7 linked regions of the Homo sapiens genome follow. The protein of the gene in region 1 interacts with the protein of each later gene in a biochemical or structural test. Each region holds a gene or a part of one and is shown in the gene's direction. Other genes may lie near its edges. The genes, in order: GIPC1, DGKZ, ITGA6, DGKK, LPAR1, SLC15A5 and LHCGR.

Region 1 (3,500 bases):
AGCCATTATTTATACTCATTCCAAGGCTTCTAACATGATGATACTATTTCCTCGTATTTCCACCATTCCAATATTTTTCTGTTGTCCACTAGTCGCCATCTCCACACATTCATCTATCACAAGGTTCATAAAGGGATCAAATCCCCGCAATATTCCTTGGACATGTCTGCCACCATTTAATTTCAATGAAAACTTCTTGTCCGTAAATTTTTTCAACTCAGGAGGGTGAGCTTTGCTCATGGTGTATACTCCATGGGCTCACAGATGCCTTGGAACAGAACGCACGGCTTCCCTCACGCTACCGCGGTAGGCCCAGCATCTTGTGCCTGGCGTCATCGACCTCGTTAGCCAATCGATTGTTCGAGCATGAGTTTCAATGGGGCAAACCTTATCCAAACCATAGCAGGCTGGGTGTGGTAGCTCATGCCTATAATCCCAGCACTTTGGAAGGCCAAGGCGGGAGGATTGCTTGAGCCCAGGAGTTCAGGACCAATCTGGGCAACGTAGTGAGACCCGTCTCTACAAAAAATAAAAATTAGCTGGGCATGGCTGTGAACACCTGTAGTCTCAGCTATTCAGGAGGTTGAGACAGGAGGATTGCTTGAGCCCAGGAATTTGAGGCTGTAGTGAGCTGTGATCACATCACTCCACTGCAGCCTGGACGACAGAGTGAGACCCCATTAAAAAAAAAAAATCAGGAAAACATAGCAACCTGTTACCTCCCTGCCCTCATGTTCTCACTATCCCCCCTTCACTCACTGTTCCAACCCCCCAGGCCTCCTCACTGTTCCTCAAACATGCCAATTGCATGCCCAGTTCAGGGCTTGGCTTTTCTTTCTTTTTTTTTTTTTTGTTTAGACCGAGTCTCGCTCTGTCGCCCAGGCTGGAGTGCAATGGCGTGATCTCAGCTCACTGCAACCTCAGCCTCAGGAGTAGCTGGGATTACAAGCATGCACCACTACGCCCAGCTAATTTTTGTGTTTTTAGTAGAGATGAGGTTTGCATGCACCACCATACCTGGCTAATTTTTGTATTTTTAGTAGAGACGGGGTTTCACCATGTTGGTCAGGCTGGCCTCAAACTCCTGACCTCATGATCCGCCTGCCTTGGCCTTCCAAAGTGCTGGGATTACAGGCATGAGCCACCGCGCCTGGCTAGGGCTTTTCTTTGTTTTTTTGAGATGGAGTCTCGGTTTGTCACCCAGGCTGGAGTGCAGTGGTGTGATCTCGGCTCACTGCAACCTCCGCCTCCTGCATTCAAGTGATTCTCCCACCTCAGCTTCCCGAGTAGCTGGGATCACAGGTGTGCACCACCACGCCCACCTGTGTATTGTATTTTTAGTAGAGATGGGGTTTTGCCATGTAGGCCAGGCTGGTCTCAAACTGCTGACCTCATGTGATCCGTCAACCTCAACCTCCCAAAGTGCTGGGATTACAGGCTTGAGCCACCATGCCCAGCCCCAGCTCAGGGCCTTTCTACTGGCTGTTCTCTCTACTTGGGACGTTCTTGCCCCAAATCATTGCATGAATGCTTCCTCCTGTGGTTCAGGTCTCAAGTTCAGCTTCACGTGCTCAGAGACGCCCTCACTGATCTTGTCTATAGAACTTGTCTTGCTTTGTCTCCATATCACTATTAAAAATTATATGAGGCTGGGCACAGTGGCTCATGCCTATAATCCCAGCTCGTTAGGAGTCCATGGCAGGAGGATTACTTGAGCCCAGGAGTTTGAGACCAGCCGGGACAACATAGCAAGACCCTGTCTCTAAAAAATAAAAATAAAAAAATTAGCAGGGCATGGTGGCAAGCACCTGTGGTCCCAGCTACTCAAGAGGCTGGGGCGGGAGGATCACTTGAGCCCAGGAGGGCAAGGGTGCAGTGAGCTCTGATTGCACCACTGCACCTCAGCCTTGGCAACACAGCAAGACTCTGTCAAAAAAAAAAAGGAAAATAAAGGAAAAAATTTATATTAGACATTTACACATTTCCCTGCTCCCTGTGCATTTCCTCTTCCGGACTGTCCACTTCTGGAGGTCATGTGCAGAGCCCCAGCTAGCCTATATAGCATCTGTGAGTGAATTAGAAAGACATCTCTTCGGCCGGGTGCAGTGACTCATGCCTGTAATCCCAGCACTTTGGGAGGCTGAGGCGAGCGAATCACGAGGTCAGGAGTTCGAGACCAGCCTGGCCAACGTAGTGAAACTCCGTCTCTACTAAAAACACAAAAAAAATTAGCCGGGCATGGTGGCGTGCACCTGTAGTCCCAGCTACCTGGGAGGCTGAGGCAGGAGAATTGCTGGAACCTGGGAGGCGGAGCTTGCAGTGAGCCAAGATTGCACCACTGCACTCCAGCCTGGGCAACACAGAACAGACTCTGTCTCAAAAAAAAAAAAAGAAAGAAAGAAAAAAAAGAAAAAAAGAAAGGCATCTCTTCCTCCTGGCAGACACCACACCAAGAAATATAGCTTGGCAGGCAGTGCACAGACCGAATTTCAGTCCTACTTGCCACCTTGGTCTAGTAATTTTGCACAGTACACAACTTGTGTAACTGAACATGGTGGCCCTAGTCAGGGATCTTGCTTTTTTTATTGAAGACAGTATCTAAAATGGTGCACAGAATACAGTAAGTACTAAAAAGAAAAAAAAAATTGTTTGAAGGGAGGGGAGAATGGAGAAAGAGAGAAATAAAGAAGCGGGCCGGGCGCGGTGGCTCATGCCTGTAATCCCAGCACTTCAAGAGGCTGAGGCGGGTGGATCACTTGAGGTCAGGAGTCTTCTGTAGTCACAGCTACTTGGGAGGTTGAGGCAGGTGAATCGCTTGAACCCAGGAGGCGGAGGTTGCAGTGAGCTGAGATCGCACCACTGCACTGCTGCTTGGGTGACAGAGCAAGACTCTGTCTCAAAAAAAAAAAAAAAAAGAAAGAAAGAAAGCAAGAAAGAAACAGAAAAAAAATGTATGTGGTGTAGAAAACAACCCCAAAAGTCTTAGTGGCTGAATTCAGCAAAGATTTGCTTTTTCTTCCTGCTACACTTCCATTGCGGCTCAGCAGGGGGCACCATTCACCGTAGTCATTCAGGGCCCGGCCTCATAGAGTCGCCACCATATCAAATGTGGCTCATCACCCTGCCTGGGAAAGATAGATCTCTGGAGGCTCCAGCACTTAAATGCCTCAGCCCAGAAATGTCATGTGCCACTTCCTCTCACAACCTATTTGCCAGAAATAATCATTTATCTGCCCAGTCACAAGGAGGCCAGGAAGTGCCATCCACCTGTTTGGTCCAAAGGGGGAGAGTCAGAAATTTTTTGCACACAGTGTTAGTGACTGTGGCTGAGAGGAAAATAGAAGCGTAGTCGCTTTCAGCCTCCATTTTCTCATCTGTTCAATGGGCATAATTGTAGCATAACGTGATCCCTGTGTTACAGTGTGGTGTGAGGGTTAAGGAAGGTCACAGGCCGGGCACGGTGGCCCATACCTGTCATGCCAGAGCTTTGGGAGGCCAAA
Region 2 (3,500 bases), on another chromosome or scaffold:
CCAGGTGGTCTGCTTTGAGTGGGGCACTATTTGGGGTCATAAGAGCACTGCCCTGACCTCCCTGTCATCTGAGGCAGCTGGAAACTCCAATAGGCAGAGACCAAGAGCTGAGCTGTGCAGAACTCTGCTTCCCTAGGCACCTCCACCCTGTCCATCTCTCCCCCAACACCCCTGTACCTGGCCTGAAGCTGCTCAAGACCTGCAGGGCAGTAGCAAATCAGTGCAGTGTATGGAAGGAGAAGGTGCTAGACGTGCGGCCTGGGCCTGACTCCTCCAGCCCTTCATCTTTGCCTTCATCCTTCCTCCTGCCCAACATGCGTCCAGGGCATCACCCACCATGCCTAATTAATGCCAGCCTTCAGGGGACCACAGGGCTTCTTCTGTCAGCCCCAGGCAGCACTGTCCCAGGGCTGTGACCTTGACCTCTGTGGCTGCCAGCGGTTAGGATGCATCCCCCACCAGTCTCTCCCCAGGACCAGGGCCCAGGAGATCACCTGCTGTGGGGCACAGGTGGCCTCAGGTACCTGGAGGCATCGCCAGCCTGATCCATGCCAGGCAGGCTGCCCTTCCCCCACTGTTAGGAGAGGTAGGGCACAGGAGCTCGATGCTGGCTGTGAAGAAGGGTAGGCAGGGCTGAGGTGAGCTGGCAGAGGGAGCAAAGCATGAGTTCAGGATGGGTCCATGGAGGCCAGGTCCAGGTGGGAGCTAGGATGATGCCCACAGCTCCTGCCTGCCTGCAGGAGGGAGCTCTGGGCTGTGCAGCGTTTGGAATTGTGAGTATGGGGGCTTCCAGCATCAGGGCCGCAGAAGAATGTGCAGTCACAGGCTCCATCAGGAGCAGAGTCAGAAGGGTTTCCCGGCATCACCCAGCTTCACCCTGGGGTATCCGTACTTTGTCCCTTCAGAAAGGTGAGACAGAGCAGTCGAGCACCAGAAAGTTCTTACCATCAGCACTTCAGACATACAGGCACGCACACACCCAGAATCCAGAAGGCTTTGCTTTTGGCCCAAGCCTATTGTCACGGCCCCCTGGGTGTGAAGGGAGACTGAGCAGCCTCTCTCCCAGGAGAGCCAGACAGTGACTCTCCAGTTCCCTGAGACCTGGTCTCCCCTGAGCTACACATTAGACCCTCTCTATTTCCAGGAGTCACCTTCAGCCTGACCCCAAGGCTATGGGCTGAGAGACTCTGGGGGTCCTGTCAGGATTAAGTTCCTTTGCAGAGAGCCTCATTTTGTTATAGCTTGGTTTGCTCCATGTCCCATGAGGGGACACCTAACCTGCCCCCACCATGTTGGTGGCAAAACAAAGGCCCAGCAAGTGGGAAGCCCTGCCCTGGGCCCCACCGTCCATCCAGGCAGACCGACTCCCCATTTTCTTTTTGTTTTCTTTTCCATCAGCTTCCGGCAGGGCAGGTGGAGGCCTTTAGGCCCAGAGCTCTGTAGATTCTGGTGCCTGGATGGGGGAAGAAGGGGTAGCCTGAAGCACCCACCTCCCTGGGACTCCAGGGCTCCCTAGGGTGCAATGGGGGAGAGCATCAGTGCCCCAACAGCTGTAAACGTGGGCTCCCCTGAGCACCCCTGGGATCCTCACATGGAGGTCAGAGGCTGCAGTGACCCCTCCCTCCCTCAGGGGTTGCTTCCCTTCTCATGGGGCAGAGGCTGTGAATGGGCTCCTGGTTGCTTCCCTTCTCATGGGGCAGAGGCTGTGAATGGGCTCCCGGACACAGGACAGACCGTGGCCTGATCCAGCTCCTGATGCTCCCGGTCTCTGTGCCCAACAGCCAACCGCCTGCCATGGAGACTTTCTTTAGGAGACATTTCCGGGGGAAGGTGCCAGGCCCTGGAGAGGGGCAGCAGCGGCCCAGCAGCGTGGGGCTGCCCACAGGCAAGGCCCGGCGTCGCTCCCCCGCTGGGCAGGCCTCCTCCTCACTGGCACAGCGGCGCCGCTCCAGCGCCCAGCTCCAGGGCTGCCTCCTGAGTTGCGGGGTGAGGGCCCAGGGTTCCAGCCGCCGGCGCTCCAGCACTGTGCCCCCTTCCTGCAACCCCCGCTTCATCGTGGATAAGGTGCTCACTCCACAGCCTACCACCGTGGGGGCCCAGCTTCTGGGTGCACCCCTGCTGTTGACCGGGCTTGTGGGCATGAATGAGGAGGAGGGTGTCCAGGAGGATGTGGTAGCCGAGGCATCGAGCGCCATCCAGCCAGGCACCAAGACACCAGGGCCACCCCCACCTCGGGGCGCCCAGCCGCTGTTGCCCCTACCCCGCTACCTGCGCCGAGCCTCCTCCCACCTGCTCCCCGCGGATGCCGTATATGACCACGCTCTCTGGGGCCTGCACGGCTACTATCGGCGCCTCAGCCAGCGGCGGCCCTCAGGCCAGCACCCTGGCCCTGGGGGCCGAAGAGCCTCAGGCACCACCGCCGGCACCATGCTGCCCACCCGTGTGCGCCCACTGTCCCGCAGGCGCCAGGTAGCCCTACGGCGCAAGGCGGCCGGACCCCAGGCCTGGAGCGCCCTGCTCGCGTAGGTATAGCTGTGGCCAGCAGGGCGAGTGGTGTGACCTCCTGTGGGTCTGGCCTGGGCATGGGCCTTGAAGCTCTGCCTGGCTGAGGGTTCCCCACTTGGGAACACTCTGGGCAGTACCCTGAAGCCAGCGTACCCCAAAAGGCCATGTCTCTTGCAGGGAGCCTCTTAGTGTCTGGGGCTGCTGGGAGGCTCCTCCGCCCTCCCTGTTGCCGAGGTCACGGAAAGGGCAGAGGCCCCAGGAGGTGGGAGGAAGTAGGGTCAGCAAGTGCTCAGCCCCCTCCTCAGCTGTCTTCTCCTCTCTAGGAAAGCCATCACCAAGTCGGGCCTCCAGCACCTGGCCCCCCCTCCGCCCACCCCTGGGGCCCCGTGCAGCGAGTCAGAGCGGCAGATCCGGAGTACAGTGGACTGGAGCGTGAGTGCCTGAACACCCCTGGGTCCCAGACCCTCTGGGCTCTTGGCCAAGGCGCAGCTGGCGGGTGGAGGCACTAAAGGCAGCTGGGAGAGCCAAGCCTGGAAGGGTTGGGACAGTGGGGCAGACGGAACAGAGCAGGGTCGATCGGGGCGCTGGAGTGGGTTTGTCTTGGGAGAGGGCGGGTGGGCGGGGGCTGATGGGAGGGAGGGCTGGGCGGCCAGCGTGTGCTGAGCAAGCCCATCCCGTGGCTAGGAGTCAGCGACATATGGGGAGCACATCTGGTTCGAGACCAACGTGTCCGGGGACTTCTGCTACGTTGGGGAGCAGTACTGTGTAGCCAGGATGCTGGTGAGTGCTCGTAGGGGCACGCCGCCCCCTGCTGGTGGAGCCAGTAGCCGCAGCCCTTCCGGGAACGTGGGATTGAGCCCGCTCCCTGGCACCCCTGCTGTGGGCCGCCCCAGGATGGTGAGGGGTGCAGGGGCTTTGTCCGGATGCCAGGACTGGGGCTTCCCAGTGCACACAAAGGGCAGCTGTGCTGGGGCAGGCAGCCTCCGAGATAGACT
Region 3 (3,187 bases), on another chromosome or scaffold:
TGCCACTGCACTCCAGCCTGGGCAACAGAGTGAGACTCTGTCTCAAAAAAAGGAAAGAATGTTGCCAAGTTGGAGGCAGGACCAGGCCTCTTGGCTCCTGGTTTATTCTTCTTCCCACCCTATTTACTAGCACATATTATTGAAAGCTGCCCAACAAAACTCTATACTGATGGAAATGTTCTGGAGCTGCAGCATCCAGTATGGTAGCCATTAGTCATGTGTGGCGGTTAGGCACGTGGAATATGGCTGGTTCACTTGAGGCACAGAGTTTTAAATGTAATTTAAATTAATTTCAATCTGAATAGCCTCACGGAGCCAGCAGCTCCCATATATTGTACAAAGTGAATCTAGGCTTTTACCTTCATGAGTTGCTGGACTAGGAATCAGAGTTTTTCAGGAGATTTTATTTGACCAGGTTAAATTTTATAAAAGACAGTTCCATGGCCTTATGAACTAGATAAAAGTAAATAGGAAAAGTTCTCTATCACTGAACGAAGGAAATTATAGTAGAAAGTGGAATTATACTTTTATACTCATTTAGAGTGACCTAACCTGAGGAGCATTGGGTCCCTACCATTTAAGGGTTTTATGGTGCTCAGAGTTTGGGAAAATGACAGCAATCATTCTTTCATGATGGTGTATTCGAATTTGTATTGTGATTCACCCCACAGATCCAAAGGCCTCAAGTAAATGGCATTTGTTCCATAAAATTTACTGTAAAAGGCAGAAAAATACCCATAGTATATCTATATTTTATTTGGATTTGTGCTTTTATTTAGAGAATTTATTTTCTAACCTTTGTCTCAATAAACTGCCGAAGTCAATCTTTTGCCTCTTTTGGAGTTCATATTCTCCTGCAGGAAGAAACTACCCAAAGCTACAATCAGCAATGTATATACGTTTTCCCTATTAGAATGATTTTTGTCCACAAGATTTCTGTTACAAAGAGAAAAATCAATGAGCTGACTAGTGTCATCCATATAAATATTTGACCAGAGATGTATGGTGAAGGGTGTATTGAATATGACAATGAAACAATGCAGTGGCTGTTCATTGTTGGTTGACTGAAAGTGGTCTGTTTGTAAACAAGCCACTAGTAGAAGGCAGATTAAAATTTGAGATGTTCTGTTGTTTGGCTCTTATACACAAAACTGTAAAATTGACTAAATACCTTGCTTCCTTGTAGTGTGGTTTCTTCAAGAGAAATAAGAAAGATCATTATGATGCCACATATCACAAGGCTGAGATCCATGCTCAGCCATCTGATAAAGAGAGGCTTACTTCTGATGCATAGTATTGATCTACTTCTGTAATTGGTAATTGATCAATGTTTTTTAATTGCTAGCTGTGGGACCCGCTATGGTTGTGGTGGCTAACTTTAAGAACAACAGCTTGCTATGTGTGTCCCATTAACAGATGTTTCCAAATGTCCACACTGGCTTGCCTTGCTTGGATTTGTTTTATTTTATTTCACTTGAAAGCTCAGTTTTTGTTTTTTTTAATGCACAGTCTTTCGTTGCAGGTGAGTTATTTTATGTTCTTGTTAAATATCTACCACAGCAATGAAGAAAATTTGCAATATTTGTACACACAAAAAGAGACTTTTAGCCCTCCATAGTAGCCCAGTTTGCAATGTGTTATTAATTCGGTATGTAGCATTCCACTAGGGAATTCAAAGATGCATAAGAAATCATTCTAGATTTCTTGTCCATTTTGGAATTTTCCACAGATAGAAGCTGTGTCGACCGCCTAATTAACCTGTTGCATGTTGGAAATGTTGTGTTTCTCTTGGTGAGGCTTCCTCACTGTCATCTTTTTGTTCTCTTTGCTATAAAGTGATGGGGAAGGCTTGGAATGCTTTTTACTGTTGCTCAGGAATCGTTTTATGCTAGCTAAGCATGCAACTTCCATTTCCTGCATGTCTCCTACAGGTCAAAGACCATTACAACAAACTGATTATCAGCATGATGGGCTTTTATGGCCAACTTCAGAAGATGATCCCTTACCAAAGTTACCTTCCATCTACAAAATTCTAGTACAAAAAATACCCTGAACAGTTTTTATTGCAATATGTTGTGATGGAGTTTGACCATATTTCATGTATCCAGAGATTTTATCCAACCTTGGATCTCAGTTGATTTTAAATTCAAGTTTCTCTTATTTGGAAATACATGGAAATAGGAATTGCTAGTGATCCCTTTCACCATTTACGTGGGCATGAGAGGACAGAATTACTCCTGTAATCCTTTCCATGGCACTATCACAGTGAATCACAACATTGCCATTCAGCTTTACATATTACCCTTAATTTCCCTCTTTGTTTAAATGGGGTAGACAGCAGTCATATTTTGTAATAGATAGGTACTTTGGCTTTTTTTTCTTTTTTTTTGCACAGAATAATAAATGAATCCATGTAGAAATGACCTGGAACAAAACATCTTGGTCCATTTTGCCTATTGATTTAGTGATAACTATACATATAATTTTATCTTGCTCCATGGCATTTTTATAACATAACATCATTCAACATAAATGTCCTGTTACTATTGACGTCACACAATAAACACATTAACAGTTCTATCAATATCCTCATTCTTCTAAACTGCATTTTAAAGTTGAAAACACCTTTTTTTAAAAAAAGTAAATATATTTCATTTAAAAATTTAATCTCAATTCAAATTTTTTCAGATATATTCTCAGTAAAAATATACTTTGGATCAGATTGACTATTTAAATGAATTTTATATATATATATAAACACACACATTAACAGTTTAAAGGTAAATGTATTTTTGCAAAAGAAGAGAAATTAGGGAGTGCTCTGAAATTCAGTGTAGTGATGCACTTCTGAAGTCCTATGCAGCACATGATTTTTATTGCAGGAAACAGTTACTATGTGATTAATGAAATAGCTTAATTAGAAGCACAATAGCAAATCCAGGCAACATAAATGACCTCCTGGCTAATGAGAGAAGTGATATGTGTACTAGAGCCTCAGAGGAGAGAAAAAGATTATAAAGTTGACCTGTTGGAACACTGGCATATTCAAATAGTAATTTGTAAAATACTTGTGACATGATTTGCATTTTATTAGTGGGAAAGGGGCATGAAATAATCTTTGGTTTATGCCATTTAAAAATTATTCTTAATCTAATCTGATAATCAGATATTTTACATATCATATTGT
Region 4 (2,458 bases), on another chromosome or scaffold:
TTGGAAGGCCGAGGCAGGCAGACTGTTTGAGCCCAGGAGTTCAAGACCAGCCTGGGCAACGTGGTGGGACCCTGCTGTCTCTACAAAAAATAAAAAATTAATAGGGCATGATGGTGTGCGTTTGTAGTCCTAGCTACTTGGGAGGCTGAGGTGGGAGGATTGCTTGAGCCTGGGAGGCTGAGGCTGCAGAGAGCTGTCATCATGCCACTGCTCTTCAGCTTGGGCAATAGAGTGAGACCTCATCTTGAAAGAAAGAGGAAGGAGGGAAGGAGGGAGGCAGGGAGGGGGAAGGAAGGAAGGAAGGAGGGAGAAAAAAAGAGGAAGAATAAAGAAAGGACGGAAGGAGAAAGAAAGGGAGCGAAATGAAAGAAAGAAGGAAAGAAAGAAAAAAAAGAAAAAAAGAAAGGGACAGAGGGTAGCAGTTTGTTTTCAAGGAACTAAGAGTTTGCACGAATGCCAAGAGAGAATCTCTTGGATCGAGCTGTATTTTCTCAGGTATGGTCGAACTGGTTTGATTCCTTAAGAGTCTGTCAATTGGGAGACAATAGTGTTTGCAAATATTTCTAAAGACTCTGACAGAGTCAATATCAGTTCCATAAATTATCAGGTTCTGAAAATTCATCCCATTTGTCTTTAGCTCACTTGGTTTCAGCTGGTTTTCCCTGATGATTCAGAGATGGTTAGTACAATAGGAACAAACCAGTCTATCTTCTAACAGACTTTTTGCTCTCTTTTGGGTCCACATACTTGGGCATCTGGCATTGTGCTAACCTCATTATTTCTATACCATTTTTTTTCCTCTGAAGGCAATTTATGGCACCGCAGACATCGTGAAGATGAAGCAGAGGGTGATGATCCTCTAACACCATCGAGATCTCAACTGTAGCCCTTGAAAGCTGGAAGAACTCACAACATTGAGAATTCTACTAAAAAAACTCTCAAAACCTCAATACAGGCTAGACTAAATCATTTCAGAACAAACATGAGCACCACCAAGAAAGACCCTCCAATTCTTTTCACTAATGCATTTTCCTGGACTTAATCTGGTCTCCTTAGAGGTTTACATTTCCTCATTGGCCAAAGGTTCTTGTTCCGAGTTGTCTTGTTCAGTTCTCCTTCTCTTTGTGCATCTTGAGCAACTACAGTATTTATTGGGATAAGCTCTTTATGAATGGCCTGGGATCTATAAAGGATTCAAGGGAGTTCACCTCTTCAGGGAGTTTTGGAATGGTTTTCTCTGACCAGCAGAGAAACTATCAATGCTAAGGAATGAATGAAAGACACACAGACTCCCAGGGAGATGAAGAGAAGGGGGCAGGCAGGACAGCCAGACTTGGTTGTGTGTCTCTCCGAATCCCTGCCAACTGCAACTTGCACCTTCAGGAGATCTCTTCTAGTTGGCTCATTAAAATGAGAACTAGATCCTGGGGGCTTGTCCACTTTCCTGTTAAGATGACCATGTGAAATCTCTTTTTGTAGATATGGTAACCTCTCTCTCTCTCTGCAAACCCTTTGCGTTTTTCTATGTGTGCTTGTATGTCTGCATATGTCCAGGTGGTGCTCTGGTGGGCTCATTGGTTGGAACTCACCCCTCATGGCAACCATACAGGCTCCCCTCCTGCTGCCTTGATCCTAGCCTGCATGCCTCCACGGAGTGTTTGCCTGCATTCTTGCTGGATTTTTTAACTAAATGTTTTGCCGCTGTGCTGCAGTATAGATTATGTATAGAGACATAAAGATGTATATATATATACATACGCATATATATTTTTAAGAGCTGAAAATACAACTCGACCTCTAAGTGACCCTATAATTTATTGTGCTAATCCAGGAATCCCTTCCCACTCCCCCTTACTCTACATAACAATAACACATACACCTCTACCAACTGCCCTATTTCTTGGTGGAGCTTCTAAATCTTTTGGTGCATTTTCAGCGTCTTAGAGGTGGCTGGGATCTATGGCCCAGCTGATTCTGACGCCCCCTTAAAATTCTGAGCCAGGCCATGGAAAGGGGAACAAAAACACCAATGCCCTAAAGAAGGGGTTTAAGCTGGCATGCTGCCTTTTTTTGCTCTATCTGTCCTAGACTCTTCATCAGCAACTGTGCCCTTCCCCAATAAAAAGACTATATGGAGCAACCAGGCCTTGAGCTCTGTGACTTAGATGCCTGAACTAGGGACTGCCTGACAATTAAGTCACAGCCTAGGCCCTTCCCCACAAGCTCCATCTTGGCCTGATCTTCTGGACAGGCTGTTGGGTCAGTCCTCAAGTCACCTTCAAATCTCCCATCTTGCCCTTTTCCCTTGAGTACAGAGGGGCATTGAAGTGATCAGAAAAAACATGGGCCTGGAGAAATGAAGGCTAGAAGCCTGTGCTTTCCTGTGGTTCTTCTTGCAAATTTCTCATGAAAACAAACTATTCCTAAATCGCTCCAAATACTAATTCACATTTTTCAA
Region 5 (3,500 bases), on another chromosome or scaffold:
AAGTTCTTTTAGAATGCCTTCAAACTCAGGCATATGTATCTTGTTATTCTTCCATTTTAGGAACATTTTCTCCAAGGTAGTCTCAATACTTTGAGGTGAGTTGGCCTTTCCCTTTTAAGGAAGGAGACCACAGAGCCCGGTAATCTCCTTTTCATTTTATATGCTTGAAATATTTTGCTAGGATTTATCTGTTTTAAAGTCTAGAGATAGACATAGCTGTGTTTTATCTGTAGCCCTGCCTTGCTTCCATCTCATTTTCCCTATTCTTACTTTTAACCCAACTTGTGTTTGAGATTCTTTGCTCAGTATATAGTTTGCTTTCTAGAATAATTCAAACCTAGTGCCTGTAGAAAGTCAGACTTATTTTTTATTTATTTGAGATAGGGTCTTGGAGTGCAGTGGCATAATCCTGGCTCACGGCAGCTTTGACCTCCTGGGCTCAAGCTATTCTCCCACTACAGCCTTCCAAGTAGCTGGGACCGCAGGTGTGTGCCGCTATGCCTGGCTATTTTTTTTCTTTTTCTTTCTTTCTTCTTCTTTCTTTTTCTTTTCTTTTTTTTTTTCTTTTTTTTTTTTTAAAGAAATGGGCTCTCACTACATTACCCAGGCTGTTCTCAAACTCCTGGGCTCAAGGGATCCTCTCACCTTGGCCTCCCAAAGTGTTGGGATGACAGCTGTGAGCCACCGCATCTGGCTAATACTTATTTTGAAGTCACCCTGTCATGGTGCTTTGCTTCACTAATGTATTTCACTTATGATCTTGAAGTCACTCAGGGATACAAACACAATAAAATGCATCCCAACCAGGAGAGGGTAGCTGCATTCATTTACAAAATTTTTTTTTGCAATGATTCAAACACTATAGATGTGTCTAAAGTAAATGTAAAAATCTCTCTCTGCCACTTTAACCTTACCCATCTGATATCAGTTTGTTCCATAGCCTTCCATAGTTGTCCTTTTACTTATACAAACCTACAAAAATTAATATTTATGTATATTTATGTGTGTGTGGGATAAGTGTGGATATGTTTATACATACTCATATGTATGTTTGTGTGTGTATCTGTCTGTGCCTGCCTCCATTTTCTTTTGCTTTAGAGAGGCTATACTTGAGGCTGCCATCAAGAGTGAGAAGTTTGAAGCTGGAAGAGCCTGCATGGGCCCTTCTTGAACTGGTGCAGCATGTGCAGCATGACATCACTCAAGAGTTCTTGTCAGAGTGATAATGAATGTCTGGCTATTGTAAACGGGAATAAGAAAACTATTTCCAGCTGTGTGACAACCAAGACGACAAAAAGCATTGCAGAGAATATTATTGCCACAAGGACCCTGCTTCATCTGGGTCTCAGACGACGGGAGGAGGGGCATTTTGGAGCACGTGTTTGGCATCTGTGAACCTTTTGTTAGGTAGAAAACAAGGCCTGAATGAAAGGCCTTTCAACCACTTCTGGAGCAGAGAAGATAGGTAGAGTTACTCATTATAGGCAGGTTTCATTGTAGGAGTATTCAGTGAGGACCCCCGCCTTGGAAGTCTGTAATCAGCAGATGATAAGGATGGTGTGTTCTTACTAAGAGAATAACACAACTGAAACAGAATTGCCTTTTGTTAAGGGGATGCTTTGCCTTCTTGGACTACGATTGTGGGGAGAAGGATTATTGTCAACTAAGTGAGGCATTCATTCTGTACCCACTATTTATTGTAGTTCCACAGAGAACTGCTTGCTTTACTTTCTGACTAGGCACAGAAAAGTAAAGGTTCAAAGGCTAGGGCAAGATGACTGACTTTTCCAGATTTAGCACAATCTGTTCTCTGGTCACTTTGAGACGCTGTCAGTTTAGTTTCATGCAGCTGATATCTTGGAGAACTTCTGTGTCCTTACGTTTGGCTGAGGACACTAAATTTTTTTTTTTTTTTTTTTTTTTTTGAGGCAGAGCCTCACTTTATTGCCCAGGCTGGAGTGCAATGGCACGATCTTGGCTCACTGCCTCCTGGGTTCAAGCAATTCTCTTGCCTCAGCCTTCCAAGTAGCTGGGACCACAGGCGTGCACCACCATGCCTGGCTAATTTTTTTTGTATTTTTTGGTAGAGATGGGGTTTCACTGTGTTGGCCAGGCTGGTCTTGAACTCCTGGCCTCAAGTGAACCACCCGCCTCGGCCTCTCAAAGTGCTGGGTTTACAGGCCCAAGCCACCGTGCCTGGCCTGAGGACACTAAAATTAAAAAAAAATTAAGAAAGTACGGTCCCCGCTCTTGAGTAGCTCATGAACATGGAGCGATATGGACTCAAATGATTAAGATCAGGTAGGTAGTGATGAATACGGTAAACCAAGTTTCAAACAAAGAGCTGTCTGCATATCTGAGGATGGAGAGGGTAAGTCAGCCTTAGAGGAGGGAAATGACTTGCAGCAGGATGCCAGCCTCAATGGTCTGTGGAGCTCATTCCATGCAGAAGAGTAATGAGGAAGACCCAGTGAGTGACAGGCTTGGGGAGGAGTGCCTGAAATTGACGGTTTGTGGCAGGAAGTGGTGGGACCAATCTCGAAGCTTGTGGAGGTAGAAGGGTACTGGAGACTACTGTGGACAAAAAAGGGCATGTTGATGCCATTACCAGACAGGACACGAGAGCATGATGATTGTTGCAGTGAGGCTTGTTAGTTTTAGACATGTCTAAAACCATGCAGGCAGAGATTTTCAGCTGGTGGCTGGCAATTTGAGTTTGAAGTTTAGCTGAGAAGTCAGTTGGCAGTATTCAGGCATAATTGCTAAATGTAGAAGTAAATGCCAGTAAAATGTGTGTGATAAGCTGGAGAGCACTTTTAGAGTGAAAAGATTGATATATTTTAACAAGGACAAGGCTTATTTCAATTCTTTAGGTTATTTTTCTTTAGCAGATTAAAGTAGTTTTATCGGTTATCAAGCATTTGTTGAGCGTTTACTATGGCTTCTCTTGATAGGTGGTCCTGGGGAGATAGGAAGGAAATGGTGCAAATTTCAACAATACCCACTGGGGTGAACAAAAAATCCCTGAAACACCCCATTCCAGCTATTGTTATCTGGAAAAAAATCCTTACAATAATTAGATGGTGATTTGACGTCTGGGGGAAGTTGCAGATATAGTTTTAATTTACTGTAGGACTAGTGGCAGTGAGTCTCATATTGCTGTCATATAAAAGGTAAACCTTCCAGAAGAACTTTGGAAATTTCAGTAGCCTAAAGACCACGCTTTGAGAAACTCGTAAAGGTTTGTCATAGAGGTTTTAAAAGTCTGATCAAATAATTTTAAGCTTTAGTTGCCTACTAAAAAGTAGGATGCAGTACAAGTTTGTCCTTTACTTGGTAAAAAAAAAAAAAAGTCTTTTTCTAATTAAGAATTTATTTTCACCTTAGATAATTTTATTGGCATGCCTTTTTGCATGCAAGATAGAAAAAAGACAAGTTTATTCTTAGTTTTCTTTTTTCTAAGCCATTATGATTCTTTTAAATTATACTCATTTCAATTT
Region 6 (2,701 bases), on another chromosome or scaffold:
AAATCAAAAATAGATGACTGACCCCATCTATTTTTGAAACTTATGTGTATGTGATAAAATTAAACTTATAGCCGATATTCATTTGTTCATTTGACAAATATTTATTGAACATCTACTATGTATCAATCACTGGGAATAAAGCAGTGAATAAAGCAATTTGAAGTTCCTATTTTGCTGGAACTTACCCGAAAGTGTTTAAGAAAGTAATTTGTCTTTAGAGGCAGTATGCCATGGAGGAAAAGCGCCAGGATTCAGAATAATCAAGTTCTGGTTCCAAATCCAAACTCTGCCAACTACTATTTCTATGAACCTTAAGCAAGTTATTTAATCTCTTGGAAACTTCAGTTTCTTAATCTGTGAAATGGGATGATTCTATCCCACCCTTGCATGGGGCTGGTACTTAGAAGACACTGGAAAGGCAGGTTTTTCTGGAGGTTGGGGATGGAGAGTGCACATTCTAGAAATATATTCATAGACTCCTTCTTTGACAATGGTGCTTTCCACATAATCTCAGCACTGAATTTACAAATTCCCAGTAAACCTCTTATGCATCCTGACCGCCATGAAATCTGTCAAGTCAATAGGCTTTCAGCCTTCTCACCATCTCTCTGTCAGCACTGAAGACAGCGTAGCAGGTTGTTAAAAAGCGCCACCTAAAGGTCCTTATGAGACACTTTACTAAGTCACAAAAACTCCTTTTGTCCTTTTAAAAAGGCTGTTTTGGTGAGCAGTGCTCTTAAATAATCGTCACTGTTGTGCCAGTATCTATGAGCCCATCATAAAAGGTAGACAAGCGCAGGAGGGAAGCAAATGATTTATCAATTCATCTACATCTGGTCCTAAGAAAAGCTTTCTTTCTTTCTTTTTTAGATATTGTAATCTAAATCATTTTAATGCCCAGAACATCCGTGGAAGTAATCTTGAAGAAACACTTCTCCTCCACGAAAAATCTCTGAAATTTTATGGCAGTATACAGGAATTTTCTTCAAGTATTGATCTTTGGGAGACAGCCCTATGAAACTGTGTTTGAGTCTACCTGTCTTATGAGAACAGTATTCATTGTTTTCTTCTTCAGTTGAGCATTTTATGTGTTTTAGTGTAAAAGCCAATATATACAGAGGTGATTTTACAAATATCATCTGTATACTTTATTTACAAAGACTAATTATGAATTTTCTAGTAAACTGTCATGCTTTTGCATTAACATGTTATAGCATTAGAATTAATAAAATAATTTCAAAGTCTCAGTGATTACTCTATGACAAAAAAAATGACAGTTTTCTATACACCAATAATACCTTACAGCTTTCTACAATGGTTCAGCCATTGAAAGCGTATGACCTTTTTTTTGGAGTTTTAATGAGTCATTAGAAGCAAAATGACAGTATTTTAATATACTCTCTTTCAATACACTTAGTGATCCCTTATTACACGTGACCTTATTACATTGTGACCATATACTGTATATAACTGAGTAAATAATAAACATATACATGATTTTCTATATTTGCTGTTAATATTATGCTATCAAAATATGACTTCATTAAGGACATTTTCTCTGAATTTAAAAGCAGTATTACTAAAATAGATGTCCTTAACAAAGAGAATGTCCGCATACTAAAAAAGTTGAAAAATAAATGTAAGTTATGGAATTATTGGAATTAAAAGAAAGAAGGAAATTAGGGAAGATAAAATGAGGGGGCTGAGAGGAGGGTAAGTGACCAAACCAAATAGAGATGCTTAAAGGAATTATATGAATAACATCTTTCGGTCTCCACTGCCAATTCAGATGCATTCAGAAAATTATCTTCTAAGAGTTTCTTCTTTCATAAGCAAAAATATGTGGAAACTCATTTTTTAAAAAATCAAATAAAATTAAAGTCTGTTTCTCAGTAGCAGTATTTGTCAACATTTGGTTGAGGACAACTTGCTACAGGTGAATCTTTCTGGCCCCTATACAGACTGCCTTAACTCAAATCTTTTTTTGAGATTGGGGTCCAGCAATTGGTGGTTTTAATAAGCACACCCAAATCATTCTCATGTTCCCTAAGGTTTAAAAGCCATTGCTTTCCAGGACAATTCATGTTGGATAGGACAGGTGAGTTTATCAGCTGACTGCAAATTATTCTGCAATTATGCACCTCCCTTGTGTATACATAAAATATTTTAGGTCTGTAGAATAAAAGATTTACTCAACTTGATTAGGTATGCTACGCATTTTTAATTGCAAAAGAGGAGCTGTAAAGCACCAGGTGTTTCTGTTACTCAAACTATTTTTTGTTTGAGGACAAATGAAAAGACTTGCTGGTACAGGCATAAATTCGTTTCCTGCAACTTTTTCAAATCCTTTCTGTTTAGCAATTGTTTCCTGGCAAAACAGTGAGGCAGACCCCTAATATTCCTTAGAAGCTTTCCTTGCTGCAAAAGGTTAAATGCCAAGTTTGCAATTTGGGTTTAATGAACACTCACAAGAGCAAGAAATCTTTAAACACTTCACCTCAGTACAAGTGAGAAGCTCTAGTCCCTCTTACTGATAGAAAAGGAGCCTGCTTTATTTTGTTCTCCCCCTCCCCACAAATTTGCCTTCATCTCCTTAATTTCTACATCATAATAGAAAAAGGTGCTCATTGTGGTTTCACTTGTCCTTAGAGCTGAAAGATCTACAGAATTATAAAGTTGACCCAAAGCAAACACCAAAAGA
Region 7 (3,947 bases), on another chromosome or scaffold:
CTGTAGAATGGTGAATGAAGGAGCCCATCCTTGAGAACTGGCTTCAGAGTGAAAGAAATCTATTCTTATATTTCCTCTCTTCAAAGCCTTAAATGCCTTCCCAGCTTTCAAAGTCCACCTCTTCCAGCAAAACTGCTAGGATTTCCAGAATCCAAACAGAATCCTTGGAAGGAAGAAATGATCAAATCAAAGAGGGGATATTATGGATCCCCATGATTACCGTAAAATTTTGTCTCCTAAGTTCTTTGGTATGTAGATCATAGCAGCTTTTTGCATTGGTGAGAGGTGGTAGGTGATAGACATGAGTTCCAGGTTTCACTACTTTAAAACCGTGTGACTTCAGGGAAGCCACATACCTCTTGGGACATTTTTCTCATCGCAAACACCCTGCTAGTTCAATGTGGAGCTTAAACATGATGTGAGGCAGAGCACCTGTTACAAGGTCTAGCCTATCCTGGGCCTTCTATGGGGCAGCTGCTACCAGTATTAGGCAGTTTCATTCATTCATTCAACAAATCTTTACTGAGGACTTACCATGTAGAAGCCAGAAGGAATACAAAAATAAATCTGAATTGGATTTTGCTCTCAAGGACCTCCCAATCTATAGAAGAGATACAGGACCAAGCCAAATAGCTATACCATAAATAAGAAAGCATTTACCACCAAGAGAAATTACTGGGGTAGTTGGGAGGATGGGCAAAGATTACTTGTAGAGTGGAGGGATTTGGTGAAAGAGAAGGGGAAAGGATTAGGGGTTGAGGATAAAAGAGAGGAAAAATGTCTGAGCCAGGCACTCTTACGCCTTCTGATGTGGGTATAGCGAGTATCCATCGGACCCTTTCACAAATGAAATAAAAGGGGTTCCGGGAAGCGTCACAACTCACTCAATTCAGAACTCCCCACCTCTAATCCAAAACATTTGCCATTAAATCTCTTTACCTCCTATAGCTAGGGCCATTTGCAGATGGTAGGGGACAAGACAGGGGAAAGTAGCAGGAAGGAGGTTATTGGGTCACTGGGCACTGTCGCAGGTCAAGGCAGAGCAGACTCAGCGGGGTGCGCGGTAAGAGGGGGAGGGCAGGGGCGGGCCGGCAGGGAAGGGTGTGTGGAAGGGCAGCCAAGGGGCGGGGAGAGGGGTGCGGGCCGCACTCAGAGGCCGTCCAAGACACTGGCAAGCCGCAGAAGCCCAGTTCGCCGGCCATGAAGCAGCGGTTCTCGGCGCTGCAGCTGCTGAAGCTGCTGCTGCTGCTGCAGCCGCCGCTGCCACGAGCGCTGCGCGAGGCGCTCTGCCCTGAGCCCTGCAACTGCGTGCCCGACGGCGCCCTGCGCTGCCCCGGCCCCACGGCCGGTCTCACTCGACTGTGAGTACACAGCGCTCCCGTCGCGGCGCCCTTGATGCAGGACCCTCCATCGCTCTATGCCACCTTCCCTCCCTACTCCTTTGGCCCCCTTTCCCTGGAAGCTTGGAGAAAAACGCTTTGCCCTATCAAATTTCCCCCACGTTTTAGGGTGATGAGAACCCAAAACTTGGTGGTTGTTTTTACCACCCCATGCCTCTGAGAGCCCCAGCCCCATTCTTTACCCCTGGTTGGGGCTGTGGCCGGGGGAGTAGAACTATTCAGGAACCTCAGGGGAAGGCCTGCTCTCTGCCGCTGCTTGAAGGGAATATGGGTGTGACGCTCCTCAACTCCTCTGGCAGGGGTCTCTGCCAGAGAAGTCTTACAGGCCTTTGAGCCTTGGGCCAGCCACGTCAGGGAAGGTGAATGTGAGCTCTGGCACCCTGTGGTCCTCTAGGAATGGAGTGCTCAGGCCCTATGGCCAAGGGTGACCTAATCTGTCAACTGACTGCTGGCAGTCACACGGGCATCTTAGTGAGCACACAAGCCGCTGCTCCACCGTGCCCAGATGTGCTTGAACTTCAGTCTCATGGTCTAATGGACCAAAGGCCCTGTGCCCTGCCGCTGGCACCCGCGCACCACCTCCACACTCACAGGCCTGATTGAGGGATTGTATACATCAGCAACCTGGGGGAGGGCGTTGTTTCTGGAGTAATGGGGTAAAGAGGAGAAGGGGAGCCTTTAGTACTAGACTATCAGGGTGTCATCAGGTCTCCTTTCTCCTATTTAGAAAAAAAAGTACCACATATTTTATAATACTATTTACATGAAATGTCCAGATAAACTGAAAGTAGATTAGTAGTTACCAGGGCTGGGGAAGCGGATGGGAGGGACAGTAGGTGACTACTAATCAGTGGGTATGGGCTTGGGGCGGGGGGGTGGTGAAATTTTTGTAAAATTAGATTGTAGAGACAGTTGCGTGTGAACATATTAAAAACAATTGCATTGTCCACTTTAAATTCTATAGTGTAGGATTTACATCTCAATACAGCTGTGAAAAGAGAAAAGGAAAGAAAAGAAAGGGAAAAAAAGACAAAAGACAAGAGTATCTAAAAGGCTGGTAGAGGTCTTGATCATGTCCTAACAATTAGAGATGATGGAATTCTGTGCTGGGGAAGGAAGGAGACCACCCCCTCTGCCATTTCCTTTGAGCCCCCAACAGTCTGTCACGGGCTGTTTCATAGAGGAGACTCACCCTCCCTGCCAGGCCAGGCTTCTTCATGTGGAAAAGTTAAAGGCCTTCTGGGAATAATTGTGGTTGAGAGATACAGTTAAAGGGTTGAGGGGTTTATATTAATTAGTTTCCATTAATTATCTTGTCAGGTCCATTCCCTGAAGGAATGGACCATGCTGATAGAATTTGTTTCAATCAATCCACAAATCCATGCAACAGGCCTTCCAAGTTCCAGCCCTGGTCCGTCCCTGACAAGCATGCCATGTTGCTCTTAAGAATGACTGTACTACTAACAGACTTTCTCACTTGCCTGCTACTTATCATACAGATTAGAAGAAACTGAGATCCAAGGAGAAGGAATAACTTGCTCAAGGTCTCACAGCTATTGAATAGCAATTCAGGATTTTATCTATTAATTATCTTTTTAAATTTGCTCATCTTTGTAAGAAAAACTACTGCTTTCTTAATAAAACACACACACACACACACACACACTCAGTTTCTCCAAAATTAGTACTGAGCAAAGAACTCCCACTGGGGGCATGAATGGGTGGGCCAAGTCCCAGTTCCTTTTCAATTCAGCTTTTCAGTAAGATCTCTCAAGGGCTCCTGCTGCCACGTGCTGTTCTCAGGAGGGGACCCCCTTCCCTGGAAAAGGCTGAAGTAAATTTTTTTTAAAAATCCCACTTTCTCCTGCTGCCTTTCAGCAGGGTTTCAAGAATCCTAGAACCCCTCAAAAATATCTGATAGGGCTGACTAGGTTTGGGGGTAGAGACCCTGAGCATCCACCACCAGGAACATCCTCTGCCAGTCATTTAGCCTCCTTAGCCAAGCGTGGTGACCCTCACAAGGTTTCATTTCCTGAGCACCAGATGGTTGAGAGATGCCCTCATCTTTCAAGAGATGCCCTTGTCACTCTGTGGAGGTTGAGCCTATGCAGGCCAAAACAGGGTAACTTTTGGCACAACATAGTGACACCAACATCCATATGACAAGAGAGGTGCATGTTAAGCAAAGGGAGGGTTGTTACTTCAAGGCAATATTTCTCAAAGTATGGTCTTAGCTCAGCAGTATGAACATCACCTGGGAAATGTTAGACTGCATATTCTCAGGCCTCAGCCCCAACCTACTGAATCAGAAACTCCAGGGGTGGGGTCCAGCAGGCTACAGATTAACAAGCTCCTCAGGTGATTCTGATGCATACTAAAGTTTGAGAACCAAGGCACAGCTCTCCAGGGAGGTATCATCTTAGAGAGGAAAAAGTATATTTTAAAAGTCCTTGTGCCATACACTTCCCTTCCCCACCCCCCCCCCCCCCCGCCAAAATCCGGCATAACACCTATTTATTGCAAAAAGGCATAAAATCAAAATCCTAA

The links.
Region 2: the proteins of GIPC1 (region 1) and DGKZ interact in a test that uses a peptide from one of them, tested with the Homo sapiens proteins (one large-scale study listed by IntAct).
Region 3: the proteins of GIPC1 (region 1) and ITGA6 form a complex in vitro, tested with the Homo sapiens proteins (one study listed by BioGRID).
Region 4: the proteins of GIPC1 (region 1) and DGKK interact in a test that uses a peptide from one of them, tested with the Homo sapiens proteins (one large-scale study listed by IntAct).
Region 5: the proteins of GIPC1 (region 1) and LPAR1 form a complex in vitro, tested with the Homo sapiens proteins (one study listed by BioGRID).
Region 6: the proteins of GIPC1 (region 1) and SLC15A5 interact in a test that uses a peptide from one of them, tested with the Homo sapiens proteins (one large-scale study listed by IntAct).
Region 7: the proteins of GIPC1 (region 1) and LHCGR form a complex in vitro, tested with the Homo sapiens proteins (one study listed by BioGRID).

What each region holds. Positions count from the first base shown.
Region 1 is NC_000019.10:14,486,128-14,489,627, reverse strand, and holds part of GIPC1 (PDZ domain-containing protein GIPC1), read left to right. Parts: intron 1-3,500. UniProt on the Homo sapiens protein: May be involved in G protein-linked signaling.
Region 2 is NC_000011.10:46,364,463-46,367,962, forward strand, and holds part of DGKZ (diacylglycerol kinase zeta), read left to right. Parts: intron 1-1,781; exon of another isoform or gene 1,782-1,794; coding exon of another isoform or gene 1,795-2,522; intron 2,523-2,828; coding exon 2,829-2,937; intron 2,938-3,189; coding exon 3,190-3,285; intron 3,286-3,500. UniProt on the Homo sapiens protein: Diacylglycerol kinase that converts diacylglycerol/DAG into phosphatidic acid/phosphatidate/PA and regulates the respective levels of these two bioactive lipids.
Region 3 is NC_000002.12:172,500,586-172,503,772, forward strand, and holds part of ITGA6 (integrin alpha-6 isoform b preproprotein), read left to right. Parts: intron 1-1,186; coding exon 1,187-1,294; 3' UTR 1,295-1,316; intron 1,317-2,722; exon of another isoform or gene 2,723-3,187. UniProt on the Homo sapiens protein: Integrin alpha-6/beta-1 (ITGA6:ITGB1) is a receptor for laminin on platelets. Integrin alpha-6/beta-1 (ITGA6:ITGB1) is present in oocytes and is involved in sperm-egg fusion.
Region 4 is NC_000023.11:50,367,368-50,369,825, reverse strand, and holds part of DGKK (diacylglycerol kinase kappa), read left to right. Parts: intron 1-806; coding exon 807-886; 3' UTR 887-2,458. UniProt on the Homo sapiens protein: Diacylglycerol kinase that converts diacylglycerol/DAG into phosphatidic acid/phosphatidate/PA and regulates the respective levels of these two bioactive lipids.
Region 5 is NC_000009.12:111,028,471-111,031,970, reverse strand, and holds part of LPAR1 (lysophosphatidic acid receptor 1), read left to right. Parts: intron 1-3,500.
Region 6 is NC_000012.12:16,187,985-16,190,685, reverse strand, and holds the end of SLC15A5 (solute carrier family 15 member 5), read left to right. Parts: intron 1-870; coding exon 871-1,018; 3' UTR 1,019-2,201; downstream 2,202-2,701. UniProt on the Homo sapiens protein: Proton oligopeptide cotransporter.
Region 7 is NC_000002.12:48,752,925-48,756,871, reverse strand, and holds the start of LHCGR (lutropin-choriogonadotropic hormone receptor precursor), read left to right. Parts: upstream 1-1,147; 5' UTR 1,148-1,200; coding exon 1,201-1,361; intron 1,362-3,947. UniProt on the Homo sapiens protein: Receptor for lutropin-choriogonadotropic hormone. The activity of this receptor is mediated by G proteins which activate adenylate cyclase.